Homo sapiens: one gene and its partners. The protein of the gene in region 1 interacts with the protein of each later gene in a pairwise test. Each region holds a gene or a part of one and is shown in the gene's direction. Other genes may lie near its edges.

Region 1 (7,823 bases):
ATCTGCACATGAATGTTTAAAGCAATTTCAATCATCACCAAAAATTGGAAATAACTCAAATGTCCTTCAGCTGATGAATGGATAAACAAATTATGATACAGCCATACAACAGAATACTACTAGCAATGAAAAGAATGGACTGTAAATACACATGATAACTTGGATGAATCTCAAACTATGCTGAGTGAAAGAAATCCACTCAAAAGCTTACATATTGTATAGACTTTATTTATGTGACATTCATAAAGAGGCAAAAGTGTATTGACAGGGAACACATCAGTGATAACCAGGAGTTAAAGGTAAGGGGAGGATGTGGCCATAAAGGGATAGCATATGGGAGATTTGCAGGGTGATCAAACTGGTCTATTTCCTGATTATAGTGGTGCCACAAATCTATACATATTCTAGAATTCACAGAACTGTATGCCCAAGAGTCTATTTTAATGTATGACAATTACAAATTTAAAATGAGACAGCTGGGGCCAGGCGCAGTGGCTCATGCCTGTAATTCCAGCACTTTGGGAGGCCGAGCCGGGTGGATCACAATGTCAGGAGTTCAAGAACAGTCTGGCCAAGATGGTGAAACCCCTTCTCTACTAAAAATACAAAAATTAGCCAGGCGCCATGGCGGGCGCTGTGGAAGTCGCCTATAATCCCAGCTACTCAGGAGGCTGAGGCAGGAGAATCTCTTGAACCCGGGAGGCAGAGGTTGCAGTGAGCCGAGATCGTGCCACTGCACTCCAGCCTGGGTGACAGAGTGAGACTCCATCTCAAAAAAAAAAAAAAAAAAAAAAGGCCGGGCACGGCGGCTCATCCCTGTAATCCCAGCACTTTGGGAGGCCGAGGAGGATGGATCACAAGGTCAGGAGATTGAGACTATCCTGGCTAACACAGTGAAACCCCGTCTCTACTAAAAATACAAAAAATTAGCCAGGCGTGGTGGCGGGCGCCTGTAGTCCCAGCTACTCGGGAGGCTGAGGCAGGAGAATGGCGTGAACCTGGGAGGTGGAGCTGGTAGTGAGCCAAGATCATGCCACTGCACTCCAGCCTAGGCGACAGAGTGAGACTCCATCTCAAAAAAAAAAAAAAAAAAAAGAGACAGGTGGAACTTTGAACACTGACTAGCTATCTGATGAAACTAAGTAATTGTTGTTAATTATTTTTACATGTGATAATGGTATTATGGTTATTTTTAAGTCCTTAGCTTTTAAAGATACACACTAAAATATTTAAGGACAAAGTTATAAAAAATATGGGATTTGCTTAAAAATAATACTGGAGGAAGGAACGGACTGGGGAAGAAATGAAAGAAAGGTGACCATGATTTAATAATTGTTGAAGAGGGTGATGGGTACGTCGGGCTTTATTATACTGTTCTGTCTACTTTTGTATATGTTTGATAGTTTCCATACTAAAAAGTTCAGCCAGGCACGGTGGCTTACGCCTGTAATCCCAGCACTTTGGGAGGCTGAGGCAGGCGGATCACGAAGTTAGGAGTTTGAGACCAGCCTGGCCAACATGGTGAAACCTCGTCTCTACTAAAAGTACAAAAATTAGCCGGGGATGGTGGCGCATGCCTGTAATCCCAGCTACTCAGGAGGCTGAGGCAGAAGAATCACTTGAACCTGGGAGGCAGAGGTTGCAGTGAGTCGAGATTGCGCCACTGCACTCCAGCCTGGGTGACAGAGCAAGACTCCGTCTCAAAAAAAAAAGAAAAGTTCAAAAAGGGTGTGAGGTTGTTAGTTTTCAACATCAAGCTGCCTGGTATGCAGTCTGAGTTTGCCATTTAGTAGGTGATCTTGGGCAAGTGACTTACTTGTCCTAAACTTCAGTTTCCCCCCACTCCATAAAATGAGACTACTAATGATAATATCTATCTCACAGTTGTTGTCAGGATTAAATGGATGTTGTCAGAATACGTGAAAAGCAATTTACCTAGTTCTTGCTATATTGCACATGCTCAATAAATGTTAATTTTTTTGTCATTATTACATCTCCTGGTCTGATTCCTCCATGCCATCTCCTCAGTATGAGCAAGTCTTCCTCCAAGCTTCTTTCTGGATATCTTATCTAAAAAGGGCCACTGAGTTTTACATCCTAATTCAGAATTATAAAACACAGGTTTGAAATTCTACTTCCCCCTCACACTACATTATATATATATATTTTTTTAAACAGGGTCTTGCTCTATTGCCCAGGCTGGAGTGCAGTGGCGCAATCATGGCTCACTGCAGCGTTGATCTCCCAGGCTCAAGCAATACCCCCACCTCAGCCTCCTTAGTATCTAGGACTACAGGCCAGCGCCATCGCACTTGGCTAATTTTTGTATTTTTGTAAAGACAGGATTTTGCCATGTTGCCCAGGCTGGTCTCAAACTCCTGGGCTCAAGTGATCCATCCAGCCTCCCAAAGTGATGGGATTACAGGCGTGAACCCAGCCTGTTCTATTCTTTATTGTATACCCAGGAGGAAATCCTAAACTTAAAAGATTGGGTTAAATAAAAATTCAGAAATGCCTATCTTTTCCTCCAAACTAGGAGTAATGTAAGATTACCATGAGTCGTGGTGGAGTGGAGTTCAATTCACCACAGAATCTGAGACAGGAAGACCTGCCAGGCCATCAGCCCCTTCCCACCACTCCTGCAGCATTCATTTTCAGGAGCAAAAGAGCCTTCCCACAATTACTGAGTCCAACACTTAGTTTCCAGGATAAGCCCACACCCAACCATTCTGTCCTGTGGTTCCCAGTGATACACTCACACTTGTTAGAATGTGCCACTTTGGGGTTCAGAAAATGCAATCACTGAGAGAAGCCCGAGTTGTAGTTATGCTCTCCTTTCGTTCCATACTTCCCCCTCTCTTGCCACATCTATCCACTAGAGGGAGGAAGGCCTAGAACCTCTTTAGCCAGAGTGGAGCAGTGGCAAGGATCAGTAGTGTGGCTTCTTAACCAAGCCAGCAGTGGGGATGTCAGAAGCACCGGAACATAATCGCCTCATTCTCTCGGAACAGAAAAGAGGAAGGGTCCCTTCCTTCCCCTTTTCAACCCTCTCTGCATGGATTGGCATGTCACCATGATCTGGTGCACTCACTTCCCTCAAGTCAGTGTGCAGGCTGCTTAAAAAATTCAGAGGAACATGTACTGGGGTCTTAGGAACATTTTCAGCCAGTGGAGAGGAAAAGGAAAACTAAGTATCTCTTGGATCATTCACAGAGTTCACCAAATACAACTGAAAACTGGGGGCTCTAATGTCCCTGCTGCCCTGATGGTATTAGTTTAAGATGTTGACACTGACATCTGCAGAGATCTCATCCATCACGGTATATCAAAGAGCAAATGTCATTCTAGTTGAGAAACTCATGTATGAGAAAGAATGGTCATCTTGGGAAATCTGTAGCTCCAGCGGCTCCTGATGTTTTTTCCTGCCTCCTCCTGTCCCATGCTTGTGCCCCAGGCAGAGCTCATTCCTAAAACCATAGCTGACCCTCTGTGCTGTCTTTTAAGTTATAATAGTAGCTGCCAACTGTTGAATATTTTGCTTTATGACAGGCACTACACTAAGCACGTTAACATATCTCACTGAAGCCTCACACCAAAGCTATGAACTAGATACAATCTATCTGTAGATAATAATATATATCCATCTGTAGATATCCATCTTATATCCATCTGTAGATGAAGAAACTCAGGTTGAGTAAGCTATCTAAGGTCACAGAGCCAATAAGTGCTAGAGGCAAGATTCTTATTCTGTACACTCTGCCTCCAAAGCCCACTTCTTTGACCCTAAGGGCACAAGAACCCAAATCAGGATGTGAAGCTTGGTCTTTGAAACCAAAGGAAGCTCCTGAATCATCCTGATAGGCTGACGGCTTGGCGCTGTAAACAAAATCAGTCTTTTGTCAAAAGGAAATGAAGTTGCCATGCCACTGTTCACTCCTGTAAGAGACTCCTCTGGGCTGTTCCATTCTCTTGCTGCAATTCAGCCGGTTGAAAAACTAAGGTGACTGCACAATGATTAACTTCAGGCCCTTCTGCTCTACTTTGAGCCTGTCTCTGGTTCATCGTTACACTCTCCGCTCAGCACCCGCAGACTCAAGAGATTTCCAATCCCCCAATTTAGCGTGGTTCTACCTTAGGCAGAACTCCCATCCAGTTCGGATATAAGCGGGTCGAAGTGGCAGGGACCACCTCGCTGGGAGGAGAGGCTGGAGCTGCGGTCTTAAAAGATCTTGGGGCCGGGCGCGATGGCTCACGCCTGTAATCCCAACACGTTGGGAGGCCGAAGCGGGTAGATTATTTGAGCCCTGGAGCTCGAGACCACCCTGACCAACACGGTGAAACCCAGTCTGTACTAAAAATACAAAAAAAAAATTAGCCGGGCGTGGTGGCGCACGCCAGTAGTCCCAGATACTCGGGAGGCGGAGCCAGGAGAACCACTTGAAACTGGGAGGCGGAGGTTGCAGTAACCGAGATCGCGCCACTGCACTCCAGCCTGGGCGACAGAGCGAGGCTCCGACTCAAAAAAAAAAAAAAAAGTATTGAATAAGCACCGGAGACCCTGAGCCACCGAGTAGCGGAGGGAAAGGGTGGCGCGCAGAGGGGCCCAGCCCCGCCTCTGCCGGACCCCGCCCCCAAAAGGCCCCGCCGCCGCCACCTCCTGCTAGGCCCCGCCCCCGACAGACACCCCCCCCCCCCCCCGCCAGGCCCCGCCTCCTGCCCCCCCAGCCGCGAGGTCCTGCCTCCTGCCCGGCCCCGCCCCCGGCCTGCCCCGCCCTCCGACCCGCCCCGCGGCGCATTGTGGGATCTGTCGGCTTGTCAGGTGGTGGAGGAAAAGGCGCTCCGTCATGGGGATCCAGACGGTAAGACCCTCATTCAGTATCCTCCACTGGGGGACCCCTCCCCATCTGGTTCTGGCCACTCAGCTCCGGACCAGGGGCTGTCGCTGCCGACCCCGCCCCGCAGGGCTCTGGGCCCACCGTGGATGCTGGGGTCCCGATCCCGCACATCCGGGCTCGGGACTCCGCCAGGTTACCCCTCTGCCCTTGGCATGCCTCCGCGCTGGAGCTCGGGATCGCCACCCCTGGGACGGTCACCACCCAAGCCCCGGGCTCTTACCCAGCCTGGCGGTCACGCTGCCTCCTCTACCCACAGAGCCCCGTCCTGCTGGCCTCCCTGGGGGTGGGGCTGGTCACTCTGCTCGGCCTGGCTGTGGGCTCCTACTTGGTTCGGAGGTCCCGCCGGCCTCAGGTCACTCTCCTGGACCCCAATGAAAAGTACCTGCTACGACTGCTAGACAAGACGGTAAGTTGGGGAAGAAAGGGCCAGGGTGAAGGAGGGGACCAGAGTGCTCCTGGCATGGAGGGTACAGCACCCACGGTGGTTGGGATGTCCAAGGGACGTGGCAGCGCCAGGCGCGCTTGGTGAAACACTTGTGTCCTCCACCCTCCAGACTGTGAGCCACAACACCAAGAGGTTCCGCTTTGCCCTGCCCACCGCCCACCACACTCTGGGGCTGCCTGTGGGTAAGGAAAGTGTGGAATGGGCTCCTTTCCCTGGTATCCTCAGAAGGTGACTCCCCTCCTGGGATCTCATGAAACACGCTGCTTCAACCGGTTTGCTCCACACACCATTCCCCTTCCCCCACTTGGCTCTGCATCCTCCAAGCTGTGAGGTGCCACTGGGCCCCTCTAGAGTGTGGCTTCCATGACCCCCATCCAGCTTTAACACTCAACAGTCTTGCCTCTTCCCTGCAGGATTTGCTAATTACTCCCTCTGAGCAAGCACTACTAACTTTTTCCCATTGCCCAGACCCTTTTGGCTCATCTGTCAAGGTCCTGGCAGTAACTGGCAGGAAACGCTGGAAATAAGTGTTTCCTCAACTGGGCGCTTATAAGAGATCCAACTGAGGGCTCAATGGGGCAAATCTTCCCTGCCTTGTAGCTCCTTGGGACCACAGCAGGAAGCAAGACATCTTGTTCTCTCAAATCTCTTTGAGTATTTTGAGGGATGCAGCACATCACAGACAACCCTTATGTAGCTCTCTGCACGGTCCCCAGGCAAACATATCTACCTCTCCACCCGAATTGATGGCAGCCTGGTCATCAGGCCATACACTCCTGTCACCAGTGATGAGGATCAAGGCTATGTGGATCTTGTCATCAAGGTAAGGGGCTAGGAAGGGACCCAGGGGCTGCTTACCCATTCTTTCTGGGATTTGTAGAAATTTCTAAGATTTGCCTGACAGCAGGAAATGGTATGTACTCTGTGGATGTGAAGAAAGTATGAGCTACTCAGGAGACTGAGGCAGGAGACTCACTTGAACCCAGGAGGCGGAGGTTGCAGTGAGCCAAGATTGCGCCACTGCACTCAAGCCTGGGCAGCAAGAGCAAAACTCTGACTCAAAAAAAAAAAAGAAAGAAAGAAAGTATGTAGACGGGGAAAAGATAGCACATATCTGATCCCTGCCCCAGCCTCAGGGAGGTTTAGTCAACATGGGGCTCAGAAACCAGTGACATTCCAAATAAGGTATTTTTCTCTCTGTCTTGTAAGGTCTACCTGAAGGGTGTGCACCCCAAATTTCCTGAGGGAGGGAAGATGTCTCAGTACCTGGATAGCCTGAAGGTTGGGGATGTGGTGGAGTTTCGGGGGCCAAGCGGGTTGCTCACTTACACTGGAAAAGGTAATGACCTGTCTTCTCCTTGAGCCTGTCTCCCACTTTATCAGTTCCCATAGTCCTCTTGGCACAGTATGGCTGTGTGTACACATGTGTATGCACGTAAGGGCCAGGGCCGCCCTTCCTTCTAAACATAGCGCTGATACAATAGAAAGGCATGTTTCTCAGCCCCATTTGCCACAGGAAGCAGTTCCTCCTCCACTTGAATTCCCTAGCCATGGCAGCTGTGGAGATTACTAAAGCAAACATGTGCCCCTCTTCCCCACCTTCAAAAATTTGCCCCCCTGGGTGAGCTGTGGAGTGAGCCAGAGATAGCTTTCAGCCCTTCCCATGGGAACAGCTGGGTGCATTAGCAAGTCCCTGGAGCTGCTGTGTGCCACTTGGGAAAATAGATTCACACCTGGCTCTGTGCCTGTCTCCTTCACCAGGGAGTGACACTTTGCCAGAAGCAGCTGATACATTGTGTGGCGCTGAACTGACTCACAGATAGCCCTGGCCCCATTGTCCCTCAACTATATTATTGTCAGGGCTGGCTCAACTCAAGCTTCCACCCAAGCTCCAGGATCAGATGTCATAGCAGCTGCTCAACTGGCCTCAGGCATATTTTCAACTCTGCATTTGTTTTCTAAGTTCGCTGTATTGACTTTATTCTTCCACTGCTCTCTTCACCTGACCTCTCAGGGCATTTTAACATTCAGCCCAACAAGAAATCTCCACCAGAACCCCGAGTGGCGAAGAAACTGGGAATGATTGCCGGCGGGACAGGTGCATTACACTGAGGGCCTTTCTCTCCCACCATTGTTGACTGTTGCCATGCAAATTCCTAGGTGACCCTCTGAAGACTGGTAACCATAGCCAAGCTGTTGTTCATCAGGGGATTTCCAGCAATGCTTAGAACTCCCTAGTATCTGAAAAACAAAATCATAAGCAGGTAGAAACCAAAAAAAATTTTAACTGATGGAATTAGAGAAACAAATTAAATGAGCTTTCCTCATTTTGAATGGATCTAATAGTTTTAGGTGAGAGAAGAGAGAAGCAGCTAGGAATGACTAGCTAGGAAGAAAGAAAATTAGCATTGGACACTACTGTGCATTAGACACTGTGTAGTCTAATACACTACTATATATTAGACACAAAAATTAGACACATA
Region 2 (7,085 bases), on another chromosome or scaffold:
AAAAGGAGTATTTTCATAAAGATAAAAGCCAAAATTCATGAATTTTAAAATATAAAACTAATAAATACATGCCATGTGTATGGCAGAGTTTCTGTCTTCAACTCTGACTTCTACCCTGTAGTCTAGTGTCCTGTATCCCACTGCAAAGTTCTTTCTTCTTGGATGTCTGGTAGGCACCTCAGATTTAACGTGCCCAGCCCCCACACACACACAAAACTTGCAGTTAGTTTTTTCCATTCTAATAAATGACATTACCATCTGTCCCCTTGCTTAAGTTAAACCTTTGGAGTCATCCCTGATTGTTCTTTCGTGTCACATGGCTAATTGATTAATTAGCAAGTTCCATGGGCTCAAATTTAAAGACATATTTAATGTAATCCGGCTGCTGTTTTCCATCTCTACTACTTCCAGCTTAGACCAAGCCAACATCTTCTCTCATCTGGACCACTGCATTAGCTTTCCAGCTGATCTCACAGCTTTCAGTCTTGCCCCACCCGCCAACACTACAGCCAAAGCAGTCCTTCAAAAATGTAAATCAGAGTATGTCTGAAGCTTGCTTGAAAACTTTCCAGTGGCTTCTCATCACACTGAGGAAAAAGTCCAAACTCCTTTCCCTGGCCAGGAAGGTCCTCCATGGCCCTACATTTCAGCCTCTGATCCCCAGCCTGATAACTCACATGCCAGAGTTATTCTTGTTGGTCCCTCTTCCTGGCACGCTCCTCCTTAGCCTTTCACATGGCTGGCCTCTCTCACATAGTCCCTCTTCATATTCTGAGACCACTTTCTGAAGTTACCTCATTTCTCGCTTCACTTGTATTTCCATGACCTTGTTTTATTTTTCATTATAGTACTATGGCTATTGAAATTATATACCTGTCTGTTCTTGCCTACTAGAATAGCATAAGGCTTCATGAGAACAAGGACTGTGTCTGTCTTGTTTCCCACTATAGCCCAGAGACATACTACATTGGACGTATATATTAAGTACTAAATAAATGTTCACAGAAAGCATGAATTTAAAAATTAAGGATAGATTATGAGAAAAGAAAAAAGTTCTAGAGCCAAGACATTGCTTTTTTTTTTTTTTTTTTTTTTTTTTTTTTTTTTTTGGGACAGAGTATTATCTCTCTGTTGCCCGGGCTGGAGTACAGTGATGCAATCGCCACTCACTGCACGCAACCTCCGCCTCCTGGGTTCAAGTGATTCTTATGCCTAAACCACCCAAATAGCTGGGATTATAGACCCACACTGCCACGCCCAGCTAATTTTTGTATTTTTAGTAGTGATGGGGTTTCGCCATGTTGGCTAGGCTGACGGTCTCAAAGTCCTGACCCCAATTGACCTGCCTGCCTCGGCCTCCCAAAGTGCTGGGATTATGGGCCTGAGCCACCACACCCGGCCAGCACTGCTTTCTAATAGAAAAAGAAACAACTTGGAAGAAATTAGAAGAAATGCAGTATGTTGAACCAAAACATAGCAAAGGATTATTAGAAGGGCAGCTGATGCTGGATAAAGGAAAAGATATTATGCATCAACCACCTCATAGTGCTGGAGCAGTAGTTTGAGGGTTGAAGGAACAGTGAGGATTTAACTAGAAATATAATCTTAGTACTCAAGACCTAGAAAAAAGAGAATGATAGTCTGCCACCAGATTGGTTTCCCTTAACTCTTTAATTTGTATCTTCAAATTCTCTCTCACCTAGCCTGGCCAACATAATGAAACCCCATCTCTACTAAAAATACAAAAATTAGCCGGGCATGGTGGCGCATGCCTGTAATCCCAGCTACGTGGGAGGCTGAGGTAGGAGAATCGCTTGAACCTGGGAGGAGGTGGTTGTAGTGAGCCAAGATCACACCACTGCACTCCAGCCTGGGTGACAGAGCGAGACTCCGTCTAAAAAAAAAAAATTCTCTCTCACTCTTTCACTGCGCACTTGAACTCTGTTCTGGCCTGTCCTGGACTGGGTAAATGACAAGTAGGCAAAAACCAGGACTTGGAGTATAGACCAGGATATGGCAAACTACAGCCACAAGCCAAATCCAGCCTGCCACCTGTTTTTGATAGCCTAAAAGCTAAGAATGGTTTTTACAGTTTTAAATCATTGGAAAGCAAAATATTTCATGATAATGTGAAAATTATGTGAACTTAAATTTTAGTGTCCATAAATAGTTTATTGGAACACACCTATCCTTTTTTGTTTACATATTATCTGTGCCTGCTCTCGTGCTACAATAGTATCATTGAGGAGCTGCGACACAGATGGTCTGTCTGACCCACAAAGCCTACAATCTTTACTATCTTGCTCTTTATAGAAAAAGTTTTCCAGCATCAGGTATACACTTGGCAAATGACTCTTCCTTTCGTATCCTTGGAGGATGATTGATGAAGGAATCTGATATAGCCAAAGATATGTAGGCCATTTTTCTTTGTGATAAAAATTATTTCTTCTCTTTTTACAGCAATTCAATTAAACCCCAGCTATATCAGGGCAATATTGAGGAGAGCAGAGTTGTATGAGAAGACGGACAAGCTAGATGAAGCCCTGGAAGACTATAAATCTATATTAGAAAAAGATCCATCAATACATCAAGCAAGAGAAGCTTGTATGGTAAAACCTAAAATTTTAAAAATATTTTTCCTTCTATTCTTTGTGTTGCTACCCAGTGAGTCCTAAATAATCCTTTCAGACACAATTAAATTCCATTTCTGTGCTTTTGAGGAGCTTATCAAGATATATGGGAGGCCAGGCGCAGTGGCTCTTGCCTGTAATCCCAGCACTTTAGGAGGCCAAGGAGGAGAGATCACTTGAGGCCAGGAGCTCGAGACCAGCCTGGCCAACACAACAAAACCCCATCTCTTCTAAAAATACAAAAAATTAGCCGGGTGTGGTCGTACACATCTGTAATCCTAGCTACTCGGGAGGCAGGAGAATTGCTTGAACCCAGAAGGCAGAGGTTGCAGTGAGCTGAGATCATGCCACTACACTGCAGCCTGGGCAACAGAGAGGATCATTGAGCCCAGGAGTTGGAGGCTGCAGTGAGCTGTGACTACATCACTGCATTCCATCATGGGCAACAGAGTAAGACTTTGTATCTTAAAAACAAACCAACAGGCTGGGTGCAGTGGCTCACGCCTGTACTCCCAGCACTTTGGGAGGCCGAGGAGGGCGGATCACCTGAGGTCGGGAGTTCGAGACCAGCCTGACCAACATGGAGAAACCCTGTCTCTACTAAAAATACAAAATTAGCTGGGTGTGGTGGCACATGCCTGTAATCCCAGCTACTCGAGAGGCTGAGGCAGGAGAATCGCTTGAACCCAGGAGGTGGAGGTTGCAGTGAGCTGAGATTGCGCCACTGCACTCCAGTCTGGGCGACAGTGTGAGACTCTGTCTTAAAAAAACAAAAAATACAAATGAATTTAAAAAAAAGTTAAAAATACAAATATAGCACTGTAAACATCTGATATGTATCCTTTCAAACTTTTTTCTGTATATATTTATTTGTTAAATTTGTATTGATGCCCTCCTTTAGTGTAGACTTTCTATTAAGAACTGGAAACAGAGCCAAACAAAACTTTTTTTTTTTTTTTTTTTTGAGAAAGGGTCTCTGACTCCCAGGCTGGAGAGCAGTGGCACAGTCATGGCATACTGCACCCTCAACCTCCCAGATTCAAGCAACCCTCCCACCTCAGCCTCCTGAGTAGCTGCGACTACAGACACATGCCAACACACCCAGCTAATTTTTGTATTTCTTGTAGAGACAGCATTTTGCCATGTTGCCCAAGGTGGTCTCAAACTCCTGAGCTCAAGCGATCCTCCCAACTCGGCCTCCAAAAGTGCTGGGAATATGGGCAGGAGTCACTGCACCTGGCCCAAACAGAACTTTTGTCTTTATGTAGCGCACCACAAACATAAATACTTGGGGTTTTTTTTTTTTATTTAATAGGATCATAGACATACTTAACTTGATCTTATTTCCACATTAGGATTCTTGTGTTTCTCAAATTCAAAATAAAGGGAAAGGTTTTGGTTTTTTTTTTTTTTTTACCAACCCTTGTTTCTCCTCTTTTCCTCAGAGATTACCTAAGCAAATTGAAGAACGTAATGAAAGACTAAAAGAAGAGATGTTAGGTAAGCTTACTTCTTACTTTGCTTGATCATAAACAGCTAGGAACCTAGGGTGGGGACATAGCGAATACTAGAGGAGAACACATGAGTTAGAAAGTTTCGGACTCTACCACAAGGCTACTGACTTCTGAGTTATTTTGACCCCAGAAGGGGCAGCGTGGCTTAGAGAGGGTATTGGCTTTTTTTGGAAACCAGATTTCCTTTTTGATTTTCTTGGAAATTTTTCTTGCCTGCAAGAATTTAAGCATAATTCAGTTCCCTGGGATTATGCTTAAATGGGATTTAAAATCCTAGGATACCACCAACCTCGATTTCAGATAACAATTACATAAAAACAGTTTAGTTTCTTCATTGAATAATCATTCCTTGAGGTTCATTAGGATGCAGTCAAGATCATGAGAATTTTTATTTAGAAAATGGCACTCAAAGTCCCTTTAGTGTTTGAGAACACACGAGAGGGCAGGAATTAGGAGTAAAGAGAAATCAGACTGGGGGTAGGGGTAGGGCAAATGGATTCATTTGATCCATGTTTAGTTATTTCTCATATTTGCCAAAGCATTTTAGAGTTGGAACCTCCCACGAGCAATCTGCTTAAGTAAGAGGAGTGAGGGTTCCTGAACACAGACTTAAGTCTTTTCCACATGTAACCTGTCTGATATTTCGCTGGTGAAGATCTGCCATGTATTTTCCTTTTTGAGTATTTTCTAAATCTGTTGTTTGAATTACATTTTATAAACTGCAATCATGTGGCCCTAAAGGAAAAATCATTTAAAATAAATTGAGCCTGTCTGGCATTTATGGCCTTCAGACATCAGCATCCAGACAATGGGAACAAATTTCCCAAAGGATCATTCTGATAGCCAAGTTGATTGAGAGGAGGCCATTAACCTAGACTATCCAGAGACTTTGGCCCCTGCCGGGTAGACTCAGACTGTAAAGACGGCTGCTTCCGATTCAGGATAGCTCTGGAGCCTTCCCCAGATTTTCCAAAAAAGGGAGGGGGATGGGGGAGCTTTTCCCCTAATTTACATATTTAATTAAACTTGGCCAGGCACGGTGGCTCCTGTAATCCCAGCACTTTAGGAGGCCAAGGTAGGAGGATTGCTTGAGCCCAGGAGTTCAAGGCCAGCCTAGGCAACATGGTGAAACCCCATCTCCACAAAAAATTAGTCAGGCATGGTGGCATGTGCCTGCCCATAGTCCCAGCTACATGGGAGGATCACTTGAGCCCAAGGGTTAGAGGCTGCAGTGAGCTATGATGGTGCCACCACACTCCAGACTGGGCAACAGAGCATGACCCTGTCTCAAAGAAGAGGGAAAAGAGCATTTTCTCACCTATTTTTACTAACAATGATGCTCTATTTTAGCAAAAAAAAAAAAAAAAAAAAAAAAAACTGTTTGCATTTAGTATTTGAATTTCTTGCTAAAAAAGATGACCTTGTGAATGGCCATAGTGGATCTGGAAGGCATTGGTCTCTTAGTCCATTTTTTTAAAGCCAGTCCAGTAAAGGGACTGGTGCAAACTGAATCTTACTGCCTATTGTTAGTTCCAGATGGAATTAAAACTTCCATTTGTCCTTGTCTTTATAAATTCTAATGCACCAGAATTTTCTGTCTCCAAGGCTTTGGGTTTTTCTTATGTCATTCTCTTCATTTGAAAAAATTCAAATTGAATTCATTCCCTCGGTTGCTTCTAAAATGAATTCACCTGCCATTAGACTTAACCAACTTAAGTTGCTTTGTAAATAATATGTGTTGTTACACATGTGTAGTTTGAATGGCTAGATTCCTTTTTTCCCTTAATGAGTATAAAAATCATGAATAAGATACTGCTCTAGGTGTTACCCCACAATAGATAACCTAGAAGAGAGAAATCACTCTTTACATGGAATTTCAGCCCCCACAAGAGCTTTTCTGGTATTCCTTCCTCCTTGTTGCTGATGAGGTAACTTTGGTTCATGTTCTGTGAGATTCCCTAGAGGCTAGACATTCTGAATGCAAATTAATATCACTTAGAAGTTCTGAGCAAGCTTTTCACAGTGGACTGCATCATCTTTATGCTAGTTCCTGTTAAAATGATGGCTTCTATGGAGAATAAGCAGTTAAAAATTTTTTAAATTGGGTAGTGTGGGCTGGGTGTGGTGGCTCACACCTGTAATCCCAGCAATTTGGGAGGCTGAGCCCGAGTTCAAGACCAGCCTGGGCAACATGGCAAAATCCTGTCACTAAAAAAATTAGCCAGGTGTGCTGGTGTGCACCTGTAGTCCCAGCTACTTAGGAGGCTGCTGTGGGAGGATCACTTGAGCCCAGGAGATCGAGACTTCAGTGAGCCACAATGATGCCACTGCACTCAAGCCTGGGTGACAGAGTGAGACCTTGTCTTTAAAAAAAAAGAAAATTATAAAATCAGGTAGTGTGATGCCTATGCCTGTAGCTTTTGTTCTTTTTATTCAGGATCACTTTAGCTTTCAGAGTCTTTTGTGGTTCCATACAAATTTTAGGATTTTTCTATTTCTGTGAAGAATGTCATTGGTGTTTTGACAGGGATTACATTGAATCTGTGGATCACCTTGAGTAGTACAAAATGGGTTTTTATTTAGATGTGTTCAGTATTCTTTAACTTGTTTTTTCTTCCATCTCTGTAATTTCCTTTTCATTAGAAAGAAGAGCTATGTACTCCTTGAGGGAAAAAATCCTGATAGGAATTATTAGTGGGTAGAACAATTATTTGCTTTGCCCTTTCTAGCCCATCATTTATAATCTTTAGAACAAGAGACCCAGGGTGGCCATTAGTCCTAGTGGCACAGTCCTTGCTGATCACAGAAGATGATCGTGATAGCATCAAGACGATCACTTGAGGAAAGTGGTCAGCAGCTGGAGTGGGGGTTGGTTGTTTTTGTTTGTTTGTTTGTTTGTTTGGTCCTTTTCTCTGGGATAATTAGCCTCCCAGCCATAATA
Region 3 (7,798 bases), on another chromosome or scaffold:
GCCCATAGGTTAACAACCCCTGTCCTGACATGTCCTTTCCACCATCATATCTGTGTTCCAGAAAGAGGAATGAGGAAGTGGAGGGGTTGAATTTTCTCACAAAAACATGATCCACAGGTAGAAATAGTGCAGCATAGTCACACAATAGAATACTACGCTACAACAAGAATGAATGAACCACAACTACACACAACGCGGATGAATCTCACAAGTATAATGTAGAGCAAAAGAAGCTGACACAAAAGATTGCATATTGATTGATTACATTTATATAAAGTATAAAAACAGACAAAATTAATCTATGGTATTAAAAGTCAGGTTGCCTTTGTAAGGGATAGTGACAAGAGAAGACTTCTGAGATCTGGAAATGTTCTATTTCTTTTTCTTTTTTTCTTTTAGAGACAGGGTCTTACTCTGTTGCTTAGGCTGGAGTACAGGATGCAATGGTGCAATTGTTTTATTTGTTGATCTGGATGGCATATGTTCCCATGCATGAGTGTGTCCACATGTGAAAATTCACTAAGCTTACCATTTGTGTACTTTCCTATATGTATACTCCAACAAAAAAAAGTTTGTATAAATTTCAAAAAAAAAAAAATAGTGATTCTGAAGTTGCAATCACTTCTCAGGTCTCTTTCGGCCAAAACTTAGAGGACCACTTATGACTGCAGGGAATCTGGGAAATGCAGGTTCATTAATTTTTTTAATTAATTAATTTATTTATTTATTTTAAGATGGAGTCTTGCTCTGTCACCCAGGCTGGAGTACAATGGCGTGATCTCAGCTCACGCCACCTCCCAGGTTCAAGCGATTCTCCTGCCTCAGCCTCCTGAGTAGCTGGGATTACAGGTGCACGCCACCATGCCTGGCTAATTTGTATTTTTAGGAGAGATGGGGTATCACCATGTTGGCCAGGCTGGTCTTGAACTCCTGACCTCGTGATCCGACCACCTCGGCCTCCCAAAGTGCTGGGATTATAGGCATGAACCACCACGCCTGGCCTGGGAACTGCAGTTTCCAGTTGGGTGGCCATATGCCTCTAAAATTTAGAGGATTCTCTTATTAAAAGGAAGAAGGGAAGAATGTAATCTAGGGGGAAATTAGCAGGCTGTGCTACAGTCCACACAGCAGCACAGGCCCATGACAGTTATCAAATCCTGCTGGGCATGAGCTGTGAAGACCTCCACCCTGGCAGTAGAGTAAGTTCTTTGGTTAGCCCACCTGGCTGCCCTTGCTACTGTTTTCTGGGAATAACTCCCTTGACCTTAGTTCTCTGTATTATCTGAGTTTACTCTCAGATAGGTTATTCGTTTACTATAGAGCATGGTCACACCTTTTTGTCCTTCTTCCCTTTTGCTTTTTTTTCTGCTTGGAACTTGGATATAATGGCAGGAGCTGCATCAGCCATCTAGGGGCCATGAGGGAGTCTTAGAAACCTCAGCCCTGATTTCCTTGGTCTTACGACATTAATAACTGGCTACTTCTGACATTCTTCTATGAGAAAATAAACTCTTATGGTTTAAACCACTGACATTGGGTCTTTGTTACCCAGAGCCAAACACAATTCTCAACTGATATGGAAGGCCTCCCTAAGAAGATGACATTTAAGCTGAGGCTTGAAGGGTTAGCAGGTGGCAGATACCAGAATAGCAGAGGAAAACCAAAAGCCCTTTCCACTCCACTACACTGCTGACTGTCTATCATCCTCTAGGTAGGGAGATAAGAGACTGGAGAAGTCAGGAGAGGAGATTTCAAGGTGGGATTGATTGGCCAGGAATGATAGTGATGCTGTGAGGAAAGGAGGGCTTGGTGATGTGCTCTCATCTCCATGTGTACGTTTCCTTCATGGCACTTGTCACACAGAAGTTGTGATGACATGATGAACACCCGTCTGTCTGTTCTGCTAGACTGGAGTCTCCATGAGGGCAGGGACAATCCTTTCGACTGTTTATCACTGGCATAATGCCTGGCACATGGCAACCATGGAACAAGTTATTGGATAGGCCGTAGTAGAAAGAGCTAGGGTAAGAGGAGGGAGAGAAAAGACACAGAAGCAGAAGAGTGGAAAACCTGGGATTGTGCAGGCTCCTTGTTAAGGGGACACCATCCCATTAGAGCACCACAACACTCCTCAGAGGCAGACAAGGGGGATTGAGGTCAAATGGTTCCTTCAGGCACCCACATGGCATGGGCTGTCCAGCTCACAGCCTGTCTCTCCTGGCTACCCAACAGGCATGATGAGCTCTGAGTTGGCTATCAGTGGTACCCCCCTCCCTAGCCATAACAATTGATCCAAGACATAGGTACATGACTCAGGCTGGACAATTAGAGTCCTTTCCAAGAATTTTTAAACAAGAGCTAAGAAAAGTAGCTACTTCCTCTGCAGCTATGAGAGCATGAGCCTGGGTTTCCTATCATCTGGTCAAGCTTCCCGGAGGTGGCCAGCCTGGGGTAATGAGCCTGGCACCCAGAGAAAAGCAGGGAAAGAGCCACAGAAACAAAGCACTACGGGTCGTCAAATCCCTGGTTCCCGTATGCCTCAGGTCAGCTCCACCCTGCCCTTCCTAGTTTATGAGCCAATAAATTCCTTTTGTGTTTAAGAGAGTTAGTGTTGAGCTTCTCTCTTGAAATCTATCAACTACCTTTCTCTCCAAAATGCACCCTGAATCTGACCACTTCTCATCATCTCCACTGCCACCAGCCTGGTCCAAACTACTAATATGTTTTGCCTGGATGAATATAACAGCCTCCCAATGGTCTCCCTGTTCCTCTCTTGCTCTCCTACAATCCATTTTCCACCCAGCAGGCCAAGTGATCTTAGACAAATGTCAATTAGATTATGTCACTTTCCTGCCTAAACCCTCCAGTGGCTTCTCATCACTTTTAGGGTAAAATACAAACTCCTTACCCTGTTTTACAAGGCCCACCATGAGGAGTGGATACTCCTGTCTGTCCTCTGACTTTATTCCATGCCACTTCCCCCTCATCACTATGATTCAGCTATATTGGCCACCTTTTTGTTCCAGACACATTAAGCTCATTATTTCTTCAGTGTCTTTGTACCTGCTTGCTTTCTTTTCTTTTCTTTTTTTTTCTGAGATGAAGTCTTGCTCTGTTGCCCAGGCTGGAGTGCAGTGGTGCGATCTCAGCTCACTGCAACCTCCGCCTCCCGGGTTCAAGCAGTTCTCCTGTCTCAGCCTCCTGAGTAGCTGGGACTACAGGCGCCTGCCACCACACCTGGCTAATTTTTTTATTTTTAGTAGAGACGGAGTTTCACCTTGTTGGTCAGGCTGGTCTCGAACTCCTGACCTCAGGTGATACACCTGCCTTGGCCTCCCAAAGTGCTGGGATTACAGGCATGAGCCACCACGCCTGGCCTTTGTACCTGCTTTTTCAGGTCTTTGCATGGTTAACCCCTCATCATTCAGTTTTTAGTGTAGTAATATAGTAATCATGTCTCCCCCACCTCATCCCTTTCTATCTTATTATGTTGTTTAAGATATTCACAGAAATGATCACTGCTATAATTATCTTTTAATTATGCTTTTGCTTACTTTTTTGTTGGCTATCTCCCCTGGAGTTTGAGCTCCAATGGAGCAGGGCCCTCACCTGTCTTATTTACCATGTATCTACACAGTAGATGCTCAAGTAACATTTATTCAATGAATAAATGAATGCATTACAAAATGAGGAGGAGCTGGAGTTCCAGGCAGCCCCTAGATTCCCTGTTGGGTCTTCTTTCCTCTGCCCCATGCACACACAGTACACACTGTTGACTAATGTTTAACTCATAGAGGAGTTTGGGCTTGACATGTGACCTCACTCAGCCTCTGTTTCATTTGTGAAGTAAGAAATAAGAGTGGGCGGCTGGGCGTGGTGGCTCATGCCTGTAATCCCAGCACTTTGGGAGTCTGAGGTGGGCAGATCACGAGGTCAGGAGATCAAGACTATCCTGGCTAACACGGTGAAACACCATCTCTACTAAAAATAGAAAAAATTAGCCGGGCATGATGGCACATACTTGTAGTCCCAGCTACTCAGGAGGCTGAGGCAGGAGAATTGCTTGAACCGGGGAGGTGGAGGTTGCAGTGAGCCAAGATTGTGCCACTGCTCTCCAGCCTGGGTGACACAGCGAGACTCCATCTCAAAAAAAAAAAAAAAAAAAAAAAAGGAGTGGGCTTATTTCACATAAGCCCACTCCTTGCTAAACCAACAATGATTGCCTAAGATGCACGGAGCCAGTTGGTGGAAAAGTCCATAGACTATCAGAGTTGAATGGTGCTGGTCAGGTGGGAGGAGCACCTCATTCCTGCTTCCCCATCAAGTTACTTGCCTTGGCCTGCTTCCTACTCTCTGGGTCACTGGTGCTCACACAGCCTTTCCCAACCCCCACCTCCAAAGGTCATATTTTACAGCTCCTTGTGAGGAATTCACATCATGCCATGACCTTCACTATGAGAAAGCACAGGCTGTAAAAGGCCAGCCTGGCTCCCTGCTCCGTGGTTAAATATTGATGATATTGGGCAATAGAGACCTGGAGTGGGCACACTACATATCCCCCTGCAGTGATGGAACCCACAGACCGCAGGTCCTCTGCAGTCCATTCTCCTGCCTGTCCAGAGGATCCGGATGTTTTCTCTTTACTTGAGGCCAACACATAACAATGAAAGCACTGGGCTACTGGTGCTTTCGGATTGTGAAAGTCAGGTGGAGCCTGTTTGCACTCTGAGTGCACTCATTCAAGAGGTCAGTCACCCTGGAGTGATACAGAAGGCTCCAGGCCTGGGCGTGTGCTAAGGCCAGAGCTACCAGATGGGTCCAGCTGCCGCAGGCTCTCCAGGCACTGTCCCCTAAGTGACAGCTGTTACTGCCTGGGAGAGCTCAAGTGCAAAGACTATCCTGTTCTCCCATAAAGAGGAGGAAAAGGAAGATACAGAAATCGGTGCTGCTCCCAACAGCAGATCAAGGCAGTCGTCAGGAACTCAGGATCCGGGGTGAGTGTCCTCATCTTGCCTTGGGGATGGGTGGCCCAGGTCTTTGGCAGAAGTCACAGTCCAATGGCACGATGGTTAAGCCCTGTTTAAAATGCAGAGATCTCCCAGAGGGGCTTAAGGAGACAAGACAACTAAATGCAGTATGACATCCTAAATGGGATCCTGGAACAAGAAAAGAACATTAAAGGCAAAACTAACAAAATGCAAATAAGGCATAAAGTTTAATTTAATCATGCAAATGACAATATGATGCTCACTTTAGAAGCAAACTGGATACGTGCTTTGATAGAAATATGTCTTTGGCCGGGCGCAGTGGCTCACGCCTGTAATTCCAGCACTTTTGGAGGCCGAGGCAGGCCGATCACCTGAGGTCAGGAGTTCGAGACCACCCCGGCTAACGTGGTGAAACCCCATCTCTACTAAAAATACAAAATTGGCCGGGTGCGGTGGCTCATGCCTGTAATCCCAGCACTTTGGGAGGCCGAGGCAGATGGATCACCTCAGGTCAGGAGTTCCGAGACCAGCCTGGCCAATGTGGTGAAATGCTGTCTCTACTAATAATACAAAAATTAGCTGGATGTGGTGGCGGGCACCTATAATCCCAGCTACTCAGGAAGCTGAGGCAGGAGGATCACTTGAACTCGGGAGGCGGAGGTTGCAGTGAGCTGAGATGGTGCCACTACACTCCAGCCTGGGCAACAAGAGTGAAACTCTGTCTCTAAATAAATAAATACAAAATTAGCTGGGCATGGTGGTGGATGCCTATAATCACAGCTACTTGGGAGGCTGAGGCAGGAGAATCACTTGAACCTGGGAGGTGGAGGTTGCAGTGAGCTGAGATCATGCCATTGCACTCCAGCCTGGGCAAAAAGAGTGAAACTCTGTCTCAAAAAAAAGAAAGAAATATGTCGCTTGTTTCTGTGGCATCTAACATAGCTGAGGAGGGCTGACTCTCGGTTCTGGATTTGTATCCAATTTGTCATTTTGGTTTTTTGTTGGTTGGTATGTGTTTACTGTAACAATATTAAACATATTTTAAACATATTTTGGCCAGGCGCGGTGGCTCATGCCTGTAATCCCAGCATTTTGGGAGGACAAGGTGGGCAGGTCGCTTGAACTCAGAAGTTCAAGGCTGGCCTGGGCAAGATGATGAAACCCCATCGCTACAAAAAATACAAAAATTAGCCGGGCGTGGTGGCACATGCCTGTTGTACCAGCTGCTCAGGAGGCTGAGGTGAGAGGATCGCCTGTGCCCGGGAGATGGAGGTTGCAGTGAGCCAAGATGGTGCCATTGCACTCCAGCCTGGGTGACAGAGCCAGACTCTGTCTCAAAAAACAAAAAACAAAAAAACACCACTCCACTGTGGACAATAGCTTACCTGCGTCTTTGTACACTGATCTGATTAGTTCCATTAATTAAATATCAAAAATTGGAATTGTTGTCTCAAAAGGTATAAGTACAATAATACCTACATTTAAAAATGCATACAAAGGCTGGGTGCAGTGGCTCACACCTGTAATCCCAGCACTTTGGGAGGCTGAGGTAGGCGGATCACCAACCTGGCAAACATGGTGAAATCCCATCTCTACTAAAAATACAAAAATTAGCCAGGTGTGGTGGCACATGCCTGTAGTCCCAGCTACTCAGGAGGCTGAGGCAAGAGAATTTCTTGAACCTGGGAGGCGGTGGTTGCAGTGAGCCGAGATCACACCATTGCACTCCAGCCTGGGCAGCAAAAACAAAACTCCATCTCAAAAAAAAAAAAACATACATACAAATAGACAAAATATACATAGAAATATATACACACATTAAAAATGGAATTACATGTATTGTTCTCATGAAAGCAGTGTATACGCATAAGAAACCACACAATACAGGAGTGGTCAACATGAATATCCCATGTGTCTAAATCTCATCCCACACCCTAGAAGAAGACTGTGTTTGGTTTCTCAACTTCAATACTTTTCTTTGTGAGTTCAGGGGTTTGCATATGGCACAGGGGCCTGTGGCTGATGTTACTAATCAATCCAGGCACTCTTACATCTGAGACTGGATGGAATGTCACAATCCTTCTTGGACAGTGCTCTGGACAGTCAGTTGGAGCTAGAACACAAGATCACATCTGTTGGCCATTCTTGTAACTTTGTCTTTCCATGATTTTAGATGGGTAGGTAGGCAGATAGATAGATAGACAGATAGATCGATAGATGATAGATAGATAGATAGATAGATAGATAGATAGATAGATAGAATCTCCCTCAAATGAGTAAGTAGGCAGTGTGCATGTGAGTCCTTGAAAGTCTAAGAAAGGGCCAGGCACGGTGGCTCAGGCCTGTATTCCTAGCATTTTGGGAGGCCGAGGCGAGTGGATTACCTGATGTCACGAGTTCAAGACCAGCCTGGGAAACATGAGGAAACCCCATCATTACTAAAAATACAAAAATTAGCCTGGCGTGGTGGCATGCCCTGTAGTCCCACTACTTGGGAGGCAGAGGCACAAACGAGAACCGCTTGGACCCAGGAGGCATAGGTTGCAGTGAGCTGAGATCACGTCACTGCACTCCAGCCTGGGCGACAGAGCAAGACTCCGTCTCAAAAGAAAAAAAAAGAAAAAAAAAAAAGTCTAAGAAAGGTCTTTTTTTCTCCCTGACTTCCATCTCCACCTTGGCATATGAATGATCATTCACATATGAAAAGCTTAAGTCAGTATTGTATTTGTGTCAAAATATTTTCCCTTGCAATTTGTAGATATGCCTTTTTAGTTTTCTCAGAGCATTTAGTGCTAGAGGAAACTCTGATG

Evidence for each region. Proteins that work in one complex are often made in the same cells at the same time.
Region 2: the proteins of CYB5R1 (region 1) and TTC1 interact in binary tests that used the Homo sapiens proteins (3 or more experiments, as listed by UniProt).
Region 3: the proteins of CYB5R1 (region 1) and SLC51B interact in binary tests that used the Homo sapiens proteins (3 or more experiments, as listed by UniProt).

Annotation. Positions count from the first base shown.
Region 1 is NC_000001.11:202,964,227-202,972,049, reverse strand, and holds the start of CYB5R1 (NADH-cytochrome b5 reductase 1), read left to right. Parts: upstream 1-4,792; 5' UTR 4,793-4,844; coding exon 4,845-4,859; intron 4,860-5,151; coding exon 5,152-5,301; intron 5,302-5,449; coding exon 5,450-5,522; intron 5,523-6,056; coding exon 6,057-6,163; intron 6,164-6,549; coding exon 6,550-6,679; intron 6,680-7,354; coding exon 7,355-7,438; intron 7,439-7,823. UniProt on the Homo sapiens protein: NADH-cytochrome b5 reductases are involved in desaturation and elongation of fatty acids, cholesterol biosynthesis, drug metabolism, and, in erythrocyte, methemoglobin reduction.
Region 2 is NC_000005.10:160,047,054-160,054,138, forward strand, and holds part of TTC1 (tetratricopeptide repeat protein 1), read left to right. Parts: intron 1-2,460; coding exon 2,461-2,609; intron 2,610-4,075; coding exon 4,076-4,130; intron 4,131-7,085.
Region 3 is NC_000015.10:65,040,589-65,048,386, forward strand, and holds the start of SLC51B (organic solute transporter subunit beta), read left to right. Parts: upstream 1-4,798; 5' UTR 4,799-4,994; exon of another isoform or gene 4,995-5,125; coding exon of another isoform or gene 5,126-5,156; intron 5,157-7,798.